2 separate regions of the Homo sapiens genome follow, and region 1 is reported to be linked to region 2. The links are microRNA targets in miRTarBase. Many come from high-throughput screens and were not tested one by one. Region 2 holds a microRNA gene; the other region holds the end of a gene's coding sequence.

The links. The annotated mature microRNA hsa-miR-4305 reads CCUAGACACCUCCAGUUC and lies in region 2 at 2,048-2,065, shown strand. An mRNA with a match to its seed (bases 2 to 7 or 8) in the 3' UTR can be bound and repressed. Matches are read on the target gene's strand: a 7mer-m8 pairs with bases 2 to 8, a 7mer-A1 pairs with bases 2 to 7 and ends in A, and an 8mer does both.
Region 1: miRTarBase lists SREK1 as a target of hsa-miR-4305. Seed matches in the 3' UTR shown: 7mer-A1 at 3,643-3,649.

The regions. Positions count from the first base shown.
Region 1 is chr5:66,177,748-66,184,918 of GRCh38, reverse strand. SREK1 (splicing regulatory glutamic acid and lysine rich protein 1) reads right to left here. Exons shown (of 12, transcript NM_001077199.3): 12 at 1,304-6,200. The coding sequence ends at 6,051. Among named protein-coding and RNA genes, the nearest start is that of LINC02065, 28 kb to the left of the region's middle.
Region 2 is chr13:39,659,173-39,666,172 of GRCh38, reverse strand. It overlaps MIR4305 (microRNA 4305), which reads left to right and starts at 2,038; the gene lies at 2,038-2,139. COG6 (component of oligomeric golgi complex 6) reads right to left here. Exons shown (of 19, transcript NM_020751.3): 2 at 6,666-6,809; 3 at 5,292-5,363; 4 at 1,019-1,077.

The DNA of each region.
Region 1 (7,171 bases), not on the chromosome of region 2:
AACATGGTACTGAAGGTCATGCCTATATAATTGATTCCATTTACCACCTCTCATCAATTGTGGTTATTCCTACATTAAATACGGTAGTATACTTTTTAAAAGAGATACTTTTCTGCAAATCTTAGGATGTTCTTCCCAAGGTAAGAAAATGATAATTATAAAAACTAAATTACTATAATGATACTCCTTAAGTAATTACGATTTGGTAGAAGTCTGCTGTTCAAAGCAGCTCCTACTCTAAGCTGGCATTGCTTTCAAGAAGTCCTGTGGAGAACGCCACACACACAAACCCACTACTGGCAAGGGGTGCATTTTAAAGGCCTCTGCTCTCCCACCCCTACACATGCAGTTTAACACATCTGAAAACCAAAATGGCAGCTGGGCACGGTGGCTCACATCTGTAATCCCAGCACTTTGGGAGGCCAAGGTGGAGGGCTCGCTTGAGGCCAGAAGTTTGAGACCAGACTGGCCAACATGGTAAAACCCCATCTCCACTAAAAATACAAAAATTAGCTGGGCGTGGTGTCGGGCACCTGTAGTTCCAGCTATTCAGGAGGCTGAGGAACGAGAATCGCTTGAGCCTGGAAGGTGGAGGTTGCAGTGAGCCAAGATAGCACCACTGCATTCCAGCCTGGGTGACAGAGTGAGATTCTGTCTCCAAAAAAAAAAAAAAAAAAAAAAAAAAAAAAAAAAAACCAAGAAAACAAAAAAAAAGAAAAGAAAACCAAAATGGCTCATGGCCTTTAGCCACAGAAGGCAGCTAAGATAGATGGCCTATGTAGATAAATCAATATACATAGCCTCAACATCTCTAGGCCAGCTAAGCCAATCAGGTCACGCAGGATTCTAAATTTATCTAACAGGTAATTTTTTTTTTTAGACTAATAGGCTAATAGGCTGTCTTACCTAAGTGACCACCCTGAGCACACAGCTCATTCACCAAATGGAGAGTTACACCTCTTATAAGTGGGAGAAGGCATTCCACCTGTTGTTAAAAGACAAAGTGATAGTTTTCATTGTACAAATATCCTAGCAAGAAGCTGAATTTGTGGCGGCTGGGGAGAAGGGAGATTCAGAGAGCAGCTATCACTTACTTGGATACTGCACAATGTTTAATATGAAAAGCCTTGACTGGAGTTAACTGCCACAAAACACGAAGATTGCCCCGTATGCAAAACCTTCCATTTTTGGTAGTAATCTTGAACCCTGGAAAAGCCTATTATCACCTTTCAGTTATAGAAATAAGATGTAAATATGCAAATAACTGTTCCAGAAATAGGTGAAATTACTACTCAACAGTGGCAAGATTTTAAGATTTTCATTTTATTAAAAATATAGCAACATAATAGCAGCATTGTTTGATAAATCTTTACTAGTACCATTTAAAAGTAGTCCTACTCACAAATAACCACCACCTATGCAGCATGTTTATGTTTACATTCCAAACTCTTCCCTTGATAATCTAACACTGTTCTATTAATCTAATCATTAAGGAGGTAATTTTTTAAGCATTAAGTTGATCTACACAGCTACACAGTATACTCAAATTTCATACTTAAATCTATTGTAGAAATCAGAAATTCTTTAGTTTATTCCCCAACAGTGTGTTACCTACCAGTACCCTCAAAATGGTTGAAATCAACCTATTCTTTCAGTGTGATTTTTATGAATTTATACTTACATATGTAGTTAAGAAATTATGTCTAGCAAATAAAAATAAACCAAGAATAGAAGGTACTACTCCTCCATACCAATCCTGGAAAAATAAAATATAGAGGTAAAATATGTGAAATCTCCCAAAAGTTGGCAATTTTAAAATTAAAATGTTAACTAGATATAAATTTAAAAATCAGGCAACAGACTTAAAACCTTTTATAAACATTATATTAAGAACTGTTATATCTGATATAAGCTAATTGTAACAAACTAATTGCTAGAAACTATAAAAGTACCTTAGAATGGAAGAAAGCTAGTTATTAGTTACTAAATCCAACTGACTGAATATAACCAAAGTCATAAATGGCTTAGCGTTTACTTTTAAAATAACGTATTGCCAGGTGCAGTACCTCACACCTGTAATCTCAGCACTTTAGAAGGCTGAGGCAGACAGATTGTTTGAGCCCAGGAGTTTGAGACCAGTCTAGGCAACATGGCAAGATCCTGTCTCTACAAAAAAAATTCTAAAATTAACTGGGCTTGGTGGCACATGTCTGTGGTCCCAGCTATTCAAGAGGCTGAGGTGAGAGGATCATCCATGCCGAGAAAGGTCAAGATTGCAGTGAGCCATGATCGTGTCACTGCACTCCAGCCTGAGTGACAGAGTGAGACCCTGTCTCAAAAAGAAAAGTAATAATAATAATGTATTACTCTTCAGGCAAAACCACCAATAAGAGTGTACTAAAAACAAACTCACCCACAAACCCAAGATTAAGTAGGGAAGTCAATTTTATTTTAAAATTTTATTACATTTATACTAAACTCCTGCTTCCAGAAATATAATTTAGCTCTTTTAAGAGCACTAGCTTTTAAAATTTGAAAATAAACATCTAATTTTAAGTGAAAATTACATTAGTAAATAAACATGAGAAAATAATATATATGTAGTGAAAATAAAAAATATTTAAACACAAGAAACATGGGCACTGCACATTTACTTTGTGGGAATGGCTCTACTTCGTAACGCACCAGTTGAAATCAGATACTGTCTTCCAATGAAAACGTAAATGATTCACTGAAATTATAAGTTATTCAATGCCATCCCTCCAAAGGGATTCATTTTAATTGTTAATTCAACAATAATTAAATCATGCTCTTTATTTCTAACAGATTAAAAAAAAACTTAAAGGCCTATTACTCTACATTATAATTCTTGAATCTACACAGTATCTTCACTTGAGAAGGGAGTTAGATCAGGGTTCTAAGTTTTAAAATAAAGATAGCAACATAGACATAGGAATGACTGAAGGTCTTGAAAATTATTACTATCACAAAATAAATTCTCTTGACCCCCCCCCCCCCGACAAAAAAACCTTTTCATTATAAACGCCAGTGTTTATTTTTAATTGAGCAGGTCAAAATTTAAGCCTCTGGCACTGCCAAAGATCAACATAGCAGGTACTGAACCTCGTGAAGAAAAGAACTTGAAACACAGAGATCACAAGCTGACTAGTGTTTGCAATTATAAGCTAATTAGATAGAAAATAACTAAGATGATAACTGCAGAACTTCAGGATTTAAAAGTTTTGACACAAAACTTATGCACTAGCTTATGAACTGATGCACCATCTTATGATACTAGTTCAGCATACGTTGCTGAAAGGCAACAGAATTTGTCTACAATGATAAATAGCAACTACAACTTAAGGAAGAGAGGGTACTCTATGTAATCAAGCTACAAAAGATAATTACAGAAAGTATGAAGCATAAAATGTCTGTCTTCTTGGCCTTACCTCAAGTTTATCTGACAACATCTACCTGGGATTTAAAAAAAGAAGTCTTAAAGAAAAAAACAAAATACCCTGAAAGAAAAGAATAAACAAATGAAAACATGAGCTCTTTTAAGTGAACAGAGAAAGTATGTCTCAAACAGATACACACGTGCGCATGCGCACACATGGACACACAAGCACACACACACATCCCTCTAGACCCTAGAATGCCTTGCTTCCATAAGCCCATGTAAAAAAAAAGTCAAACCCTAATAACAATCTGATTTGTTCCTCCAGATCTCTTGTATTCCTACTCATTCTTAGTTTTTACAAATCAGTGTTTCAAGATTATAGTACGATTATTTTAAAGCTTAATAAATATCAGCAGAGAAAATAATTAGCAGCAAGAACCAAATTAAATGTTAATTACCAACATAAAGAAACATGTAATAGGTCCAGAGTACAAGAAAACACTCATACTTTAAATGACTTGTTTTATAGACACCACACAAACATGCACTCTCCACGTCACAACAATCTCTATGACAACTAAAATGAGCAGGATAAAACTAAAATGCTTTTTTGAAATGCATAAACAAACATTTTCCTCTAAAATACTTAGCTTTATTAAAGACATGGTACTAAAAATAACAGATTCCAACATTTGCTCTATTTCTACTTATATATCATAAATAAGACAGCTGTTGATGCAAGACACACTCTTTCACAATCTTTCCATATGCACCCAAGCATTCTTGTATCAGAATAAGCTGTTTACCAGCCAACCGTATGTGGCTGAATGATTAAAATGACCATCTATACTTTACATAGTAAAGCATCTTCCAAAATTTTAATGTACACAGTGACAAAAAGGAAAAACAAACAAAAAAAACAGTAATTCTGAACACATGAAGAGTGATTAAGCAGCTTCATAATCAAATCAGGCTTCATTACTTGCAACAAGGGCAACTCTTTCCATTCCCCACTAAATACTAAAGTTTCAATCTTATTAACATTAAAAGAAAACTCAAGTTGAAACCAAGTAACTAACATGCTATTCAGCTTTTTAGATCTAAAAAAGTAACTCTTCCCATGAGGTAAGGCAACTGAGTAATCTGATTGTATTAGATTGCATTAAAATAATTATACTTAACTTTTAATACACTAATTAAAAGGTATTACTTTTTTGGAAATACAACAATAATGAGTTCAGAAACCACAAGTTATAGTACTGGGGAAAAACATTAGCAGTGCTGTCACTTTACTATTTGCATACTTTCTGTAAAAAGTGAGCCTAAGAATGATGGATGACCTGTATCTTAAACTCAAGTAAACGTATCCTTAAACATAAAACCAATAACCTCCCATATACTCCTAAGTCCTTAAGTACAATTTCTGCACATCATTTATGAAAAGATGATTGAGAGGTAATAAGGCCATCCAATGTAGACAACTAAAGGGTTTTCTTCAATTTAAGGAAAATAAGAACATGTTTCATTTTCAATTATCACAGTATAAAACTGATGGTCCCAAAGCTGCATGACTCTAATGTCATTCTTGAAAACAGGACTTCCTTCTCATTTTAGGTGAAATCAGTAAGAAGCTCTTCTGACATATCACTTACACACTTCTCTATGGGTATGCATGAAATATCCATCTAGATTCCATATGAATTGAGAATGACTAGCACATATAAAATTCTAGAAAACAGTATACCACATTGTAGAAGGCACTAAAGCTTCAGCTTGTGCTCCCATAGCCCATTTTGAAAAGCCAGTTTCCTTTTTTATAAGGGCACCTTTGCCACCTACAGCTGACAAGACACACTGCAATATTATTCATAATAAGCTTGGAAATGTCAAGAAAATTTAAAAAGAAATGCTCACTTTGTGGGTAGTCCCAATGATTCTAAACACTGAATACTAATTCATCATTATTAGTATTCAACACGGTTGCTCTTCCTTTTGAAAGAGAACAGTAGCATGCATTGTCAGTTTTTTAATCCACTTATTTAAGCAATTTTAATCTGCAAAACTATTTTAAAGAAAAATTGTCCTAAACAGTGAGCAAAAGAAAACACAATAGTGAGAATTTAACACAATCACAAGTCCTGTGAAGTAAATGTTAAAACTTCTTACATACTTTGCACTTACAAGGGTGTGTATATATTTGCACCAATTTCAAGCACATCATCAAACTGTATATATTGAAATAAAAAAAAAAGTAAAACAATACAAAATTCAGTAACTAGCATTTTTTAAAAGAGCCTCCAATGCTTATCTCCAGTCTTTAGGGATAGTACAAACTTGGATCTTTGATGTTCAATTTATTTGCAATGGTTCTTGGCAAACACTAACAGACCACATGACAAGTGTGTCAGCCACCATGGAAATGCACAGATTTTAGAAGATGAGTTTGGGTAACATCTGTTATTTTCATGATGTCCATGCTTTATTTTCTTACTCAATAACAAGATGGCCACAAAGTCATCTAACAACTGGAAAAGCTGTTAGATCCTATCTTCATGCTCAACTAGATTTCTTTCCTGTTTACATCTTGTTGAGAGAATTAAAAGCTTTGGATTTGATTCCAGCATTGAGTGCAGAGGTACACTTGTCGGTCCTATACTGCTTCTGTTTTGGTAGAGAGGTTTTCTTCATTCAGCTGACAATTCCCATTGTGCTGTATTTTGTTTTCCTCAGTCCTTGGTGCATCCTTGTCATCTACTTCTTTGCTCACACTTGAATCTGGTTCTTTATTGTGCTCTTTCTCCTACAATGAGTAATTAAGGTATGCATTTAATATTTTCCTCAAGAACTGCCTGCTATGACGACAAAAATGTGAAACTTTATCTTTTGCAAATTTAAAAAACTGGGTATGATTTTCTCTCATTACGTTTTCACACAAAATGAATATGCAAACACTATCAATTTCCCCTTTGTGTTCTCATAAAAGATGGACAATCCATGGAAATTAAATTAGAATTGGTGAACAGAAATTTTAAGCAAGTGCTCAATAAATGTTGCTGACAGACTTGAAAAACGGAGACAGATCTATTGAAAGAGTGAAATAATTTCCAAGGATGCCAGGATAGATTTTTAATCTGCAAACCAATGCAGCAAAAATAAGGAAATGTGGAAAAGGAAGTCACTATGCCTCCTGGAAAAGGCTGTTCAAGAGCACTCCAATTTCTACCCTCAATTTAAAAGAGTTAAATGAGAACAAACAGTGCCCGGCACATCGTAAATGCTTAATAAATGTTATCAATGTTATTGATGATGATGATAATCGTCTATCAGTATTACAGTACATAAAACTATAAGATAGATGTTCCAAAATTCATAATTTCCAAATACAAATATACTTTACCAGTGTAAGTAACTTAATTCACAACTACTTGAAGTATTTATCCAAGTGACAAAAAAGCTCACTTGGTGGAATGTGGTTTTCCATTAGGTATTCTAACCCAACAAACCTAATGTTAACTACACAAAGTCTTTTCAAACTTGCTGAAACATAAATTGAGGAAAATGGCATCAGGCAGAAATCCTATCTACATAAAATCAAATACATTTGTTACTGTTGATTTCTTAAATTTTTCTTATTGCATGCCATGTTAGGATTTAACTTAGTTTTTTTAGTTTTAATTGGCTCTTATCTCTTCAACATTTAGTTTTTTTAAATTACCAATTAAATATTTTAAATATTTTAAAATGCCATAAAATGCCAACAATGTACAAGAC
Region 2 (7,000 bases):
GATAAATCATAATTTACAACCCATTGATCTTGACCTGAACTACAAAAAAACACTAGTTGGATCAGAAGTCACAGACTTTTTCTGTAAAAATCTTGATAGTACATATTTTAGGCTTTGTAGGCCACATATGGTCTCTGTTGTAACCACACGACTCTACTGCAGTAGGGTAAAAGCAGCCATAGACAGTATGTAAACACAACCATAGCTGTGTTCCAATAAAGCTGCATTTACAAAAGCAGGTGTTGAGCTGGATTTGGCCTGTGGCCATAGTTTGATAACCTGTGGTCTATACTATAGTATACTGACCTACCCCAAAATCAGCAGTTAAAGTGGTAATATCTCCATATTACTGATGAAATACCTAGAATACTAAAAGGTTTAAGTGATGTACCCAACTACTGAGCAGGAGACAAGTATACTGCATCATAATATAATGCTTCTCCCCCCCTATACTACTCCACACATGAGAGATGCAGTTAATGAGTTTTAGCATAATTGCTATGAGTTTTAGCAATACTGAACACCACACATTACACAAATCCAGACTGTACTCACCTTTATTCACTCACTCACTCATTCATTCAATCAACCAATAGTATACCTATTGTATAAACTACAAGGAGAATTTATACAATTAACTCTTAATTATACCAGAGAGGATATATCATAGCTTAAAAATAAAAGACAATGATTGTGAAAAAAAAGTAATAAAACTATTAAAAATCTGAAAACATTTACATTTTAAAAAGCATCATTTCTGAACTCCACAGCAAACAATAACGATACATCATCACCTCTCTTCCAAAGAAGGAATAATCTCTCAACCTCAATGTCAAGTTTATTGCTCCTAAACTACTGTCTTTATGCTTAAGTTACTATTGGGTAATATAATAGTTTAGGACCTTATGAACCATGTTTTTTATTATTCTGCTTTAATTCTGATTTGGAGTTATATATAATTTTCTTTGACTCCAATCTCCAAATTATTGAAAAGGTGGTTGTATGAAGAAAAACTTACCTTTCAGATTGAAGCTTAGTGGTTTTTACTATTAAATCTTGAGTCTGTTCCTTTGCTGCCTAAAATTATAAACATATCTAATATAAGTAAATTCCAATTTTATTATATTTCAGAAAACAAATACTACCACTTACTGCAATTTAGACTTAAAACAAATGAGATCACTCTATGGAACTCAAAAGCACAATAAAATGAAATACGTAGATGTTTCAAGGCTCATCCACTGGAGGAACACACTCAGTTCTTAATATACACATAATGCTAAGGCTTACAAGAAAGAAAAAGGTATCCAGATACTGACAAAGGAACTTAATAGTTCATGATGCTTTTTAGTGCAACAGAAGCACTGGAAAAACAAGTTAAGAATGAAGAACATGACTTCAGGTATGGACGTGTTGAACTGAGATACCATGCAACCTTTACATGGGGTTGTTAACTAAGTCACTGAAATGCTAGTGTGGAGCTCAATAGAAATGTATAAGATGGAGGTAAAAGTTTGAAAGTTGTAATATACAAACTACCTGCCATATAAGTTTTTGGTGAGGATCAGAGCTAGCCCCATCTAAAGGACACAAGGCTGTTCCTAATCAACTTTCATTCTAAGCAATTCTCCCTTCCCTAAGCCAGAGTTGATCAAAAGTGGAAAGTCAATTAAAAAAGCATCTTATCCAAGATTAGAAAACATTCATGAAGTGGCTTTAAACAAAAGACAATGAGATTCTCTCTCAAATATCTGAACTAGGGAATATTTACAAAAATAAGGCAATAAACAATAAGAAGAGAAGTAGTCATGAGGCACGTAGAGAAACAAGGTCTGTGCCTTGAAGAAATATTAAATGAGCCAGAAAGATGCATAAATTAAGTCATTAGTAAAGTGGAGAAAAACACATAAAATAGAAGGTGAATCAGTCTGTTAAAGAGAAAATACCAGAGCAAACACCTGAAGACACTGGGTCATTTTCATGTTGGAATACCACAATAAAGAGTCAAGCTTCTGCTACTGCGGTTTCTTTCTAGAGCTGCCTTAGACCTAGACACCTCCAGTTCTGGGTTCTTAGAGGCCTAATCCTCTACAAACTCAGTTTTCAGACTGTGAGGGAAATTCTCTGTCTTATTGCTTTCTAGGTATGCTGTCAATAACAGAGCCTGATTGCCACCTCAAATGAAGCTATTTTGAGTGTATGTTCCCAGGAAATAGATTTTTTAAGAAAACAATTTGAACCTAGATAATTTTGCATATCCCTTATCTTTTTTTTTTTTTTTTAAAGAGGCAGGGTCTCACTCTGTCACCCAGCCTGGAGTATGGTGGTGCAATCTTGAGTCACTGCAGCCTTGACCTCCTGGGCCCAAGCAATCCTCCCACCTAAGCCTCTAGAATAGCTGGGACTATAGGCATGTGCCACCATGCCTGGCTAACTTATTAAAAGTTTTTGGTAGAGATGGGGTCTTGCTATGTTGCCCAGGCTGGTCACAAAGGATCATTCTGCCTCAGCCTCCCAAAATGCTGAGATTACAGGTGTGAGCCACCACGCCCAGCCATTTCACTGACTTTTAAGGAATGGAGCTCAACATGATAGCTCCCAAAATATTCTTTTAGAATTATTAGACTGCCAATAAGTTCTTCAAATGCTCATACTTCTTAAATGCTAAAGTTCCATTTCCACCCTTGTACAGTCTTGCCTTGTGCAATTTTTAAAATATAGTATCCCCTCAAGTCAAAGATATGTTTACATTTTAATATTTCTGAAAAAAAGAATGCTTCACAAAATCAACATCAAAAAACCTTTACTAGCTTTTTAGGCTAGTCGTTATTGAGGGTGCACCTTACAATCAACACCATTTATTAATCAATGAAATATGATAATTTAGCACAATGTTATATAATAAGAATTTGCTAATTTTTTTGCATATTTCCTGATTTTTTCATTTATAAACTATGGTAAGAATTCCAAAGTAATATTTAATAATATTAATGAAGATTAACCTCAATCTCCATTTATCTTAAATGTTAAAGATGATTATTTTTGAGTTAATAATAAACATATGCATCTAAATGCATGTTTATTATTTAAACATATGCAAGGAAAACCACAAAGGAATAAATATTAACATATATAAAATGACTGATTACATTTTTAAATGTTTTCTAATAATTTCTAAAAGGTACCATAGTCAAAGCATTTCAGAAAATATTAAATAATTAAATGAATCATTATAACAACATTCTATAAGAAAAAGGGAAAGTGAGGATACTCTAAGAAACACTTTTCTTTATGAATAACTTAAAAACATTAGAGTTGATATTATGAATGTATACTATTAGAATTCCAATAGTGCTATATCCAAATAAATTAGCTTTAAGCAAAATTTTAAGGAATAAACAAAACTTTCAAAATCATGGACCTCCTACTATTAAAAATGATATGTGGATCAAAAACAAATGTAAACAATAGGCAGTATTAAATATTTTTAAATATTCAATCAGAAAGCTATGAGGCAATCTTTTATATGTGATAAAAATGTTCTGTATCTTGATTATAGTTGTTGTTTCACAGGCATATAAAAATGCCAAGCCTATCAATTTGAACACTTTGAATGGATGCAGTTTATTACCATTCATAAATTATTCCTCAATAAAGTTGATCTGAATAAAGAAAGAAAATAGGCCCATGCCACTGCAGAAGAAAAAACAGGATGTGAGGTGGGTGCAAAGAAAATATAAAGGACTGGCCGGGCATGGTGGCTCATGTCTGTAATCCCAGCACTTTGGAAGGCCGAGGTAGGTGAATCACTTGAGGTCAGGAGTTCGAGACCACCCTGGACAACCTGGCGAAATCCTGTGTCTACTAAAAACACAAAAATCAGCCAGGCATGGTGTCAGGCGCCTGTAATCCTAGCTACTTGGGAGGCTGAGGCAGAATTGTTTGAACTCAGAAGGTGGAAGTTGCTATGAGCCGAGATCACGCCACTAAGGATACAGCGAGACTCTGTCTCAAAAAAAAAAAAAAAAAATACAAAGGACAAAACAGAAAGAGACACTTTGGTTGTAATTTAAAATATTTATAAACTGTTTGAAAAATAGCACAAATAAAAATACTATGATCTTTTTATATTTAAATCTCTCTATGATGAAAAGTATAAAAACATAATTAAGGATACAAATTAAAAAATAAGAGATACTATCACTAAAGATCAGAAACTGAGTAGTCTAATATAACAAAGCATAATGTTATTTAAAAAACACAAAAGTACAATATAGAAAACCTTATAAAGTATAATTTGAGAAAAGGCATTACGTCATGGAAGCTAAAAGAGGAGAAAAGGAAATAAAGTTAAAGAAAAAGAAGGGTCAAACAAAATCAACCACTGAGGAATAAAGTAAATATATGCCAAAAATGTGAAATGGCCATTAATAATTAGTATATATTATATAATTATTTAAATATTGTCAAATTAACAAATATCTAAATATTGGACTAAGAGACAATAAACATGCCAATAATATCTGATAGATTAGTAAGAATATCAAAATTTAGACAAGACCAGAAAAGATAAAATTTTAGAGAAACAAGAAATTAACTCATCCTGCAAACTGATGATGCAAGTAGCCTGTGATTAATCTGTAGAATATGCATTAATGATTCTTCCTAGAATCACTGTTGATGTCAATCGTTCCAAGAGACACTTAGAGATATAAATTCGCTGTTAAAATGTGAAGGCAGTAGACATAATCATGATTGGCCCTTAGGAGGAAACCGTTCTATGTACTATTCCAAAATTAGATGAATGAGGTTAATTAAGTCAAATGCTGATTCTGCTACCAAACTATAAGTTTAGGACTGCTTTCATTAAAAGACCTAAAAGTATACATATTTTCCCAGAATTTTTTAAGGTTATGCATAAATCAGAATTAAGCTAGGTCTTTATCAGGCACAGCTTTAGTGTGAAATTATTCCTAAGGCTTCTTACTAAAAAAAATCATTACTCCTAGATTTCTAGAATATTACGGAATTGAAAGGTTTATCAAAATTCTACGTAGTTAGCTCTGTACTGGCTAGACCAAAATATAAATGCTCTAAAGTTAATTGAACAATATTAATAAATCATTATCCAAAGAAACACAAAGATAGCTACAATTTTTAAAAATAAGGATTATATTTATACCCAAATTTCCTACAGGGCATTATGGATTAGATATCTACACATTTTGTCAATAATAATTTTTGTAAGTTTATATCAGGAACTATGCCAAAATCTAGCCATTATATAATACCTGTAGGCGACTTGTCATATCTTGACAACAGTTGCTCATTGCTTGAACATCTTCGCTTATGCTTTCAAGTTCCTGAAAAGAAGAAAAGTAACATCAAACATCATATATACAGCAAGAAGAAGATTCTCTTCTGTTAGCTAAATCCTTATTTTAGTTACATAATTTTTTATTTTTTTGGTCAAGGCATGACAAGAGATCCCATATTTAAAATTGGAAATGATTAAAAAGAATAACATCTAGTGTTAGAAAAAATGTAAAGAAAATAGTCCATTCCTTTTAGAGAATATGACCGCAGGAAAACAGCAAATGCTTTATAAAACTGAATATCCCTTTATTGCTAGTGTTATTCAATTGCAGTTACTCTTATTGATGTTCAAATAGTCTTATGTTTGGCCAGTAGAAGAATCCTCTTCACATTAGCTCCAAAGTCCTTTTGACATGTATCCAATAGTCTCAGATAGCATCTTTGCTTTCTGATACTGGTAAGATTGTTCCTTTTAGTAGGAAATGATGTTTAAAAGAGCCAGGCATGGTGGCAGGCACCTGTAGTCCCAGTTACTTGGGAAACTGAGGTGGGAGAATTGCGTGAGCCCAGGAGTTCGATGCTGTAGTGTACTATGATCATACCTGGGAACAGCCACTACACTCCAGCCCAGGCAACATAGCAAGAGTCCATCTCTAATGTAATTTTTTTTAAAAAAATCCTTTCCAAAGTATTAGTCTTCAGTCAATAAAAACCTACCAAGGTGTCAAAAACAACCTATTTTTATTGAACACTCATTGAAACCATGTGCAACACTTCCATAACTCACATAGAAATATATTAGTATTACAATGTATTAAAACAGCTAATAAAATATTACATAATAAAGATATAATAACATAAAATTTATTTTCACTCTGTGGTGAGTGGACTACACTCTCAAGTATGATGAATCATTATTAATACATTGAAGTTACTGATCTTAATCTGAAATTTTCATATTTTAGGATATAGTAAAAGTAACTCAATTCTAATTAATCTCCAGTAGAGAAGTTGTTATCCAAGAGAGGTTTATGCAATGAGGGGATATTTCTATTGGAAAGCCATTCAGGGAAATGTTAATTTTTTTGTTAAAAAAGCTAAAATTCCTAAGATAATCTTCTAGAACAATGTTAACTTTCTAAGAATTAATATTTGTGGAAGTCACAGATTCATAAATCACATTAATACAAATAAAGATCTAGATGCAGCAAGAGAAATTAGCTAAGCTTTCTATTTGGGCATAGTATACAAATAGCAAACATATCAACCTAATTCAAAAAAATACTTAGCACAGAGCCAGGCGTAATAGTAAGTTCTCAATATATGCTAAATGAAAAGAGTTTACATACCTCCTTCACTTCCTTGAAAATGCTTACAAATTCTTCATTGATGGCTAAACTTTTACGTTCAATATCTCCACGTAAATTTCTTCGAGTCCGCAGACTATTTTCAACAAAAAAGGTTGAAAGTGCCTTGAGAGCTTCTAACATCTCCTATACAATTGGTAACAGAAGACAGTTACTGGAACTAATTTTTAAATGGTTTCAAATCTCAAGACAAAATGTAATGAAATCATTTTCAAATGATTTATTTTCATTAACCAATCCGAAAAATATTGAATGACCTTCAAATTACTGAAGCATGCTTATTTCCAGAACACAAGAAGGGTATACTTACTTGTGTA